Regions from separate parts of the Homo sapiens genome. Here all the other regions are linked to region 1. The links come from fine-mapping of genetic effects on gene expression. A gene starts in region 1. Each other region holds a variant in brackets. All regions are shown on one strand. Distances are between the middles of the regions. Region 1 holds the start of DNAJC5 (DnaJ heat shock protein family (Hsp40) member C5). Region 2 overlaps DNAJC5 (DnaJ heat shock protein family (Hsp40) member C5). Region 3 overlaps DNAJC5 (DnaJ heat shock protein family (Hsp40) member C5).

What was found.
Region 2: its variant is fine-mapped to the expression of DNAJC5 in whole blood (TOPMed, PIP above 0.99).
Region 3: its variant is fine-mapped to the expression of DNAJC5 in whole blood (TOPMed, PIP above 0.99).

The regions. Positions count from the first base shown.
Region 1 is chr20:63,893,721-63,896,471 of GRCh38, forward strand. DNAJC5 (DnaJ heat shock protein family (Hsp40) member C5) reads left to right here and starts at 1,406. Exons shown (of 5, transcript NM_025219.3): 1 at 1,406-1,603. RefSeq lists enhancers at 619-788, 721-1,248, a cis regulatory region at 704 and a silencer at 1,248-1,487.
Region 2 is chr20:63,931,506-63,934,256 of GRCh38, forward strand. It overlaps DNAJC5 (DnaJ heat shock protein family (Hsp40) member C5), which reads left to right. Exons shown (of 5, transcript NM_025219.3): 5 at 1-2,751. The coding sequence ends at 63. Among named protein-coding and RNA genes, the nearest start is that of MIR1914, 8.7 kb to the right of the region's middle. RefSeq lists an enhancer at 731-1,232. The variant C/T (reference allele first, on the strand shown) is at 1,366.
Region 3 is chr20:63,927,846-63,930,596 of GRCh38, forward strand. It overlaps DNAJC5 (DnaJ heat shock protein family (Hsp40) member C5), which reads left to right. Exons shown (of 5, transcript NM_025219.3): 2 at 490-607; 3 at 1,467-1,680. The coding sequence starts at 501. Among named protein-coding and RNA genes, the nearest start is that of MIR941-5, 9.4 kb to the left of the region's middle. The variant C/T (reference allele first, on the strand shown) is at 1,503.

The sequences.
Region 1 (2,751 bases):
TGGGTCCCGTTGTATACATTTCAGTAACTATATTATTCCATTTGAGTGCTCACTTGTGCAGTTGGGCAGGTTTCCATTCTCGCTATTAAAAATAGTGCCTTCATGAATATTTCAGTGCATATACCTTTTTCTGTATTTAGGAATATTTTCTTTGGAAGAATGTCCCTAAAGTGGAACTGCTAGGTCTCAGAGGGACTCACTTAAGGCTGGTTCATTCATTCTTGCAGCTCCCAGCACAAGTGGAATATAGCTTCAATCTGAGATCGGTACCAGGCCCATTTCATTCTCTCATCCCTCCAATTCTGGCCTGAAATATTTCATTCTCTTGGAATCTATAGTTGTAGATATGAACCTGGCCTTTCTGCTTCTTGGGTTCCATAGGCCTTTTCTTGCTGCCTGCTTGATGTTGCGCAGCTTAATGACTGCTAGGAGGCTTCCCAAGCTCTGACACTTCCAGGCTGTGAGACTGGAACAAGCTTGGCAATTCAAGACCGGCATTATGGCAGTGAGTTATGAGGGCAGAGGAAGGAGGCCAGAGCGTGTTGAGAGAGAATTTGGGTTTCACGCAGTGTGTCACGGGAAGCCTTGGATGCTACTGGGTTTGTTTTAAAAAGATGACCGCACTGAACTCAGGTAAACGGGCAAGGGTGGAAGCGAGGAGGCAGGAGCACCGGCCGCAGAGGTCTGGGAGCTTCTAGGATGGGAAGTGGCCCAGGCAGCCTACGCGGGGCAGGCCGTCAGTGAGTGGCGGAGCGCCTGCAGTTACAGGGACAGGGAAGGGTGGCCGACGGGATGGGCAAGGGCAGAGGGAGGTGGAGTGGACGTTCGTGGTCCTGCCTCTCCACGCTGCTGTTTGGAGATGATTCCGGGAGGGTGGGAGGGCGCTGGCGACGGCATTTCAGTGGTTGGACAGGAAGGAAGGAAGGACGTCCCATCTCGGCGCTCCAGGGTTGAGCAAATGTCAGTCCCAGGACGGTGGCTCCGGGTGGGGGCGGGGGCGACGGTCCGCAGCCGTCTCCCACCAGCTCCCTGTTCAGTTCTTTGATGAGAACGATTACGTTTTCTCAGTCTTACTTAAAGCGCTGAGTAAACTCACCTGCAAGACCAGCAAGCCCTGCGCTTCTCTTTCTGCGCGGTTCCCCGCAGCACATGGCGTGTCCACCCGGGACCCACCTGCGGCCACCTGAAGACTGGGAGGACTGGCTCCGCCCCCGCGCTTCGTCCCCGCCCACTCATGGGCGGAGCCTCCACAGGGCGCCTCGGCCCCGGGCTGTCACTCGGGACTCCGCCCCTTCATGGACGGAGCCTCCGCTCGGCTCTCTGAGCGCATGCGCAGCCGGTCCCACCCGCGGCTCCGACACGCCGGAGCCCACGTCCTTCCGGGAGCGCGCGCGCCGGTGCGGGTGCGTGCGTGAGCGTGCTCGTCTCCGCTGCCGCTGCCGCTGCCGCTGCCGGTGCCGCACCCGCGCCCTCTGCCGCCGCCGCCGCCGCCGCCCGGGGTCTCCAGGCTGAGGAGTGCGTCGGCCGCTGCCCAGCAGCGCCGCGAATCGGGGAGCGGAGCCGCGGAGCCGGCGGGAGGGCGGGCGGGCGGGCGGACGGGCAGGTGAGCTCGCTGCGGGTCGGGCGGGCGGATCGGCCCACGTCAGGCCCGGGCAGGCGGGCGGGCGGGCGCGGGTGGGGGGCGGGGGCGGCACTCCAGAGCCGGAAATGGCGGCGACCCCCGGGCCGGGGCTGCGCGGGCGCTCGGGGCCGGAGCTGCTGCGACGCCGCGGCCTGGGCCGGGGCGGGGGCGCGGGAAGGTCGGCGCCGGGGCCTGCGGGAGCCGGGCCGGGCCGGGCCGGGGGTCTGAGCACCGTGGTGGGGGCTGGGGCGGCGCTCTCCGCGGGTCTCTTCGGGCCCGGACGCCCCCTCCGCTCCCCCAGGTCCCCGCGGCCGCCCCCAACCCCCCGGGGTCTCCTCTCCTGCGGGGGGACTGGAGAAGCTGGGCCATCGCTGGTCTTAGGGAGGCAGATAATTTAGTCCCTGGGTCGTTGTGTTTATAGCTCGGGGAATTGAAAATTGTTCTGTAACGCATCGTAAATTAATCTTTCCGACGTTGTAAATTCCAAAAAGCATTTGGTTTGTTAGAAAAAACCTGTTTTCTCCGCTTTATAAAAACATTTGAAGCCATGCTTTATATTGAACTCTTAAGGAGAGTATTAGGAACTCGTCCGTTCAGGTTCTAACTTGTTGGTGTTAAGTGTCTGGATTAAAGACTCTCTTTTTCGTGTGCCGAAGCCATGATTTCTCAAATTCATTCAGTTGTGTCATACAGGAAAAGGAAGCAAAAATTTCAGCTTTATTTTTGTTTTCCGGCTTAGGCTTGGTTGGGAAGATTTGATGGTGGTTAGACACGTCTGCCCTTATTTGCCTGTTTAGAAAAACCTATTCTAATGACAAAAACAGTTACATTGCTCCCACTATTGTCATGGTTACCTGAAGGCAAAAGTTTACTCAAAGCTTCTGAGATTTTATGTTCGTTTATTTGCTTCTCTTTTTAAAAAAATGTCAGCTGAGTTTCAGGAATGAGTAGTCTGTCAAACAAGAGATGAAATTAGAAGCCTGGATCTAAGGGCTTTGGGGAAGTTTCGGTTGAGTTCCCCTTTCACTTGTGTCGGTGCTGTAGGACTCGGGGTGGCTCCAGCTGGCGTCTGGCCCAGCAGAGAGCTGTAGGGGCCCGCTCTGGTTGCTGGCTGTGTGGACTCTGAGGGA
Region 2 (2,751 bases), 38 kb after region 1:
ACCGAGACCACCCAGCTCACAGCCGACTCCCACCCCAGCTACCACACTGACGGGTTCAACTAAATCCAGGAGGAGCTGTGGTCAGAGGAGGAGCCGGCGCCTGGCCACGCCAACCTTAGAATCATGAACTGTAGTCACAGAGATGGGAAGGCAGCCTCCTGCCTGCCCTGGCCTTGCTGGGGCCCCTCCTGCCTCCACGCCCACCCAGCGTCGACCCTTGACCCACGAAGTGCGTAGCATGCAGTATTTAAAGCAGTGTAGCTACGGTCTTCTGTTTTTTTCCCTTTTTTAATAGCATGTATGGGGTTCTGTTCCATGTCTGTGTTGTGGACATTCCGCGGCATGACCGCGTGAACTGCACGGTGGAGCTGCCTCAGGGCTGTCGGTCAGGTTGGTCCAGTGAGGGGTGACTGCAGCCGGTCAGGTGGGCGAGGAGAAGGGGGGCTGCCCCTTTCCTACCTGTGCTTGAGGGGCCGGAGGCAGGTGCTGCCTGGCAGAGCTGTGTTACCGTCTTGGCCTCGGGGTCTGGTCCACACTCTGTGCTCCCAGCCTTGAGGCTGCAGTAGGACTCTGATCTCACCTGCCAGAAGAGAGGCGGGGCCGCGTCCTCCTGGCGTCACCGGCGTCACTGTCATTCCTTGGTGTCTGTGCTGGGCATGGTTGGCTTGGGGGTCTGTGGTTTCCTGGGCCTTGTGGCAGGGTTTCTCCCGTGGGAGAATTTGGTGTGGAAAGCATAGGAGGCCCCTTCCGAGGTTGACACCGTGTCCTCCGCGGTGTTTCTCGCCTGGTCGTCTCGTCGTGTGGACGCTGCCGTTCTGGTTCTCGGAGGTGTGTCCTTCGCCGTGTTGGGGTTATTTGTCTGTGTTCCTGCACTTTTCCCGGGCTCTGAGCTGGATTGATGGGGCCAGTCTCCCCCCTCCCATCTTGAGGTCGTTCTCCACATTCCTTCCAGCACACCTGTCCTTTCCATAGCCCTTTTTGGACCTTTAGAACCACAGATGATAGGACCAGCCCAATGAGCCACAGTCAGAGAGTAGATTGTGCATGTGTGAGCACCCAGCTACTGGGGACGGGGGCTCTCCCACGACCCCTCCTCCTGTGTTTGCCAGAGCTCCCATCTGCCCCACTCGCCTTTGCCCCGTCATCGATGATTCAGGCAGAGCCAGATTCGTTAGGTCCCTGGAGGAAGGACTGACTGGACCAGAGGGACCCTCTGGCTCAGGAGGGTTGGGTCCCTGGGAGGCCGGCAGCCAGGCCACAGAATCCACACGTGGACCATTGTGGGTCCCTGGGAGGCCGGCAGCCAGGCCACGGAATCCACACGTGGACCATTGTGGGTCCCTTGGGAGGCCAGCAGCCAGACTA[C/T]GGAATCCACATGTGGACCATGGGAAGTCAGTCTCTTGCGTGTCCTAGACCTTGTGGGTGGCGCCCTGCATAGGGGAGCAGGGGGAACGGGTCTGATGTCCCTGTGCTGGCTGAGGGCTCAGAGCTGCCCGCACTCCGTAGCTCATGGGATGTGCTGGGCCTGCCTTTGGCGCCATGCTGCAGACTCCAGTGGGCCTGGTTTCTGCAGAATGTCCATGGTGGCCGCTGCAGAGTTGCAGAGGTCCCTGTAGAGATAAAGCTGAGGAGGAGGCTGTGTGTGATGGCTCTGGCTCGGACCAACCAGATGAGCCTCCTGAAGCCCCCTTCCCTGCCTGCCTGCTGACCCGTGGCCCCAGCTCACTCATTGCCCTCAGCAGCCACCCGAGGCTGTGCAGAAGGGTAGGTTCAGGTTGACCAGGAAGCTGCCAAAAGGGACATGGATATGAGGATACATCTGGACGTGCTTAGGAACAGGGTGCTGGTTGAGGGCCCCCAGCTGACCCCTACTGCAGATCCGCATGTGGACCATGAGCCGGCTGCCAGCACTAGGTCCTGGGCAGCTTTGTTTGTCCCACTTTTCTTTGTTTCTTCTCACTAAAATGATCACGAAGACCTTTGACAAGAGGAGAGATATGCACTGTGATATTAAATTAGAAATAATTTATCAAAATCAGACCTCTCCTAAAAGAATAAGAAATTCATTGTTTGGCCCATCCTGAAAGGTGAGGTGGCGAGACAGTGGGGTGCCTCCGTGCCGCTTCGTGCAGCAGCAAGTTCAGCCTGAGATGCTGGCTGTACTCAGCCTTTGCAATTTTTGTAGATGTAGCTTAGGACGTGAGTTATTTTTCCGCAGACTGGCCAAGAGCCAGGTTCTAAGCTTGGACCTAAGGTAGAAAGCTGCCCATCGGGGGCCCTAGCTCAGCCCCACCAGGCCCTCTGTTGGGCCTGCACACAGCTCTGTGGCTAGAACACTCCAAGGCCCTTCGGTACCCATCAGAGTGGGCCCCTTGCCAGGTGGCTTTTCAGTTACAGAGTCCAGTGGACCATTTTGTAGAACCATGCAGCTCCCTGCGGAAGGTGGGGTAGGGTGGGAAAGAGGAGCAGGTCTGGAGGTTTGTGGAACCCAGTCCCCTGCAGAATCTGTAAAACCTAATAAATCATGGTTGTGGCCATTCTCACGGTGGTGATTGTGATTAGACGACCCCCGGGAAGCCCAGACACTCGGGGCCTGGAGTTCCTCCCCCTGCCTGACCTAGAAGCAGAACCGTTTTCAGCGCTCTGCCCTGTTGGCTTTAAGGCTTTGTCTTAATTTAAGGAAAAAGATCCTCCCGGGTTTTATTTCTCTCTTTCTTGAGTGGACTGTTTCCCTATAATTAAAAGAGGTGG
Region 3 (2,751 bases), 34 kb after region 1:
TTTTCTTGTAACTTTTTAGCTTATACCTCTTTGCATTTTTTATGCAGAGGTTGCTGTAAGGATTACAATATGCATGTTTATTTTAATTAATTAATTTATTTTGTTTATTTATATATTTGTTTTTAAGGAACAGGGTCCCTGTCTCCTGGGCTCCAGTGCAGTGGAGTGATCATAGCTCACTGCAGCCTCAAACTCCTGGGCTCAAGCGGTCCTCCCGCCTCAGCCTCCCAAAATGCTGGGACTACAGGTGTGAGCCCCTGTGCCGGCCCACAGTACACAGCTGCAGTTCTTCAGGATCTCTTGGGGTGGCCGTATTCTGCCGTCTCACACTTCTCCATGCCATGGCGTCTGTCTGTGCACGTGGCAAACTCCACAAGGCAGTGTTGGATTCTTTTGCTTTGAACGGTCTTATGGAATAAAGTCCATCAGCTCTGCCCTTGGTACTTTCATCTATACTTTGTGATACTTTCTTTTTATTTTTTCTTCTAGAATAGCCTAACATGGCAGACCAGAGACAGCGCTCACTGTCTACCTCTGGGGAGTCATTGTACCACGTCCTTGGGTTGGACAAGAACGCAACCTCAGATGACATTAAAAAGTCCTATCGGTAAGTGGACAAGTGTGGCCCCCACATCCCCCCAGGAAGACACACATGCCCCGTGTGGTTTAGTCTGCATTTTACCAAGAACCATTGCACATACTTTATCCTGGCCGACTCAGCGTTGAACTGGTCACAGCTCGGTAACACCTTTGTATGTGTAATGTGCTCCTTATAGCTTAAAGTTATGGTATTCATGTTCTCTTGCCAACAAAAAATAGCACTTAGTAGAAACTGACACACTGTCCACAGTTCCATAGGGAGTCAGGGTCTGAACCTGTTTGAGGCCTCACAGGAGCCGCAGAGCGCTGGCATGGTCCTGTGGTCTCCTTGTTTTAGCACAGTGATGACAGAGACCCCTCACTCTGTTGTGGCCTTCTGATTGAGCTTGAAGAACTGCACTCTTGGGTACAGTTTCATTGAGTAACCTGTAAGAGACACCATCACTAATCCAGACAATTCAGATAGTCCTCCTCTCGTGTGCTAGCATCGTGTAGTTCATAAAACACTTCTTAAAGTGCCATCATTACGCCCCGCCGTGCTTACCGTTCACTTGGCACTTGTGCAGTTAGCGGCTGGGACACCAGGGCTGGCCTTGGTGCCGCTGAACTTAGATGTGCCGTGGCACTCACAGCCCTTGGGGCTCCCTCCTCTGAGGCTGGGTCAGGGTGAGGAGGTTTACCTGAAACAACCGCGGAGCTTGCTTTTGTCCCTGGCCCCTGCAGCCCTGGAGAGTCGGACAGTGAGGTGGCCTGGGTGGACCTGCCTTCCACTGCACCCGGCAGTGCGTGCGGGTGGGATGGACGCGGCGGCGGGTGCGGGTGGAACAAAGTCCAGGGTAGAGCCAGGACATGGTTTTGGTTTGCAGGAAGCTTGCCTTGAAATATCACCCCGACAAGAACCC[C/T]GACAACCCGGAGGCCGCGGACAAGTTTAAGGAGATCAACAACGCGCACGCCATCCTCACGGACGCCACAAAAAGGAACATCTACGACAAGTACGGCTCGCTGGGTCTCTACGTGGCCGAGCAGTTTGGGGAAGAGAACGTGAACACCTACTTCGTGCTGTCCAGCTGGTGGGCCAAGGTGAGGGCGAGCTGCCTGCCGTGCGGGCACCCGAGTCACTCCTGCCGTGCGGGCACCCGAGTCTCTCCTGCCGTGCGGGCACCCGAGTCACTCCTGCCGTGCGGGCACCCGAGTCTCTCCTGCCGTGCGGGCACCCGAGTCTCTCCTGCCGTGCGGGCACCCGAGTCACTCCTGCCGTGCGGGCGCCCGAGTCACTCCTGCCGTGCGGGCACCCGAGTCTCTCCTGCCATGTGGGCACCCGGGTCACTCCACGCCTGCAGGGTTCCCAGCATTGCAGAGCCCATGCGTTGATGCCAGCAACTCTACACTCCTGAGAAAAGGCTTCTGGGCATATGGAGCCTTTCTCCTCACCTGTGTGATGGGCGAAGCTCTGTCACTGGCTTGGTGTCCTGCCTGGAACAAGCCATAGCGTACAGATTGTCCCAGGGAAGAGCCGTGCGGAGCCGCCAGGGTTTCTTCTGTAAATGGCTCCCAGTCCTTCGTGAGACAGGAGGAAATAAGCCTCGATGTTACATCCGCATTTCTTCGTTTCCTCGTTTTGTTCCAAATGTCATATATGAGGCCAGAGGGTTGGAATCACTGCATGGCATTTGTGAGAAGCCTGTATTTGGCTTTGACTGGTCGGCCTCCTCACTAGAATCCTTATAAAGTACTTTTTATTTAGTTAATGTTAGACAGAGTCTCGCTCTGTTGCCCAGACTGGAGTGCTGTGGTGAGATCCTGGCTCACTTTAACTTTGAATTCCTGGGTTCAAGTGATCCTCCCACTTCAGCTCCAGAACTGCAGGAGTTGAGGCGTGAACCACTGTGCCCAGCCTGGAGGCTGCTTTGTTTTTTTTTTGAGACGGAGTCTCGCTCTGTTTCCCAGGCTGGAGTGCAGTGGCGCGATCTTGGCTCACTGCAAGCTCCACCTCCCGGGTTCACGCCATTCTCCTGCCTCTGCCTCCCGAGTGGCTGGGACTACAGGTGCCCGCCACCACGTCCAGCTAATTTTTTGTATTTTTAGTAGAGACAGGGTTTCACCGTGTTAGCCAGGATGGTCTCGATCTCCTGACCTCGTGATCCGCCAGCC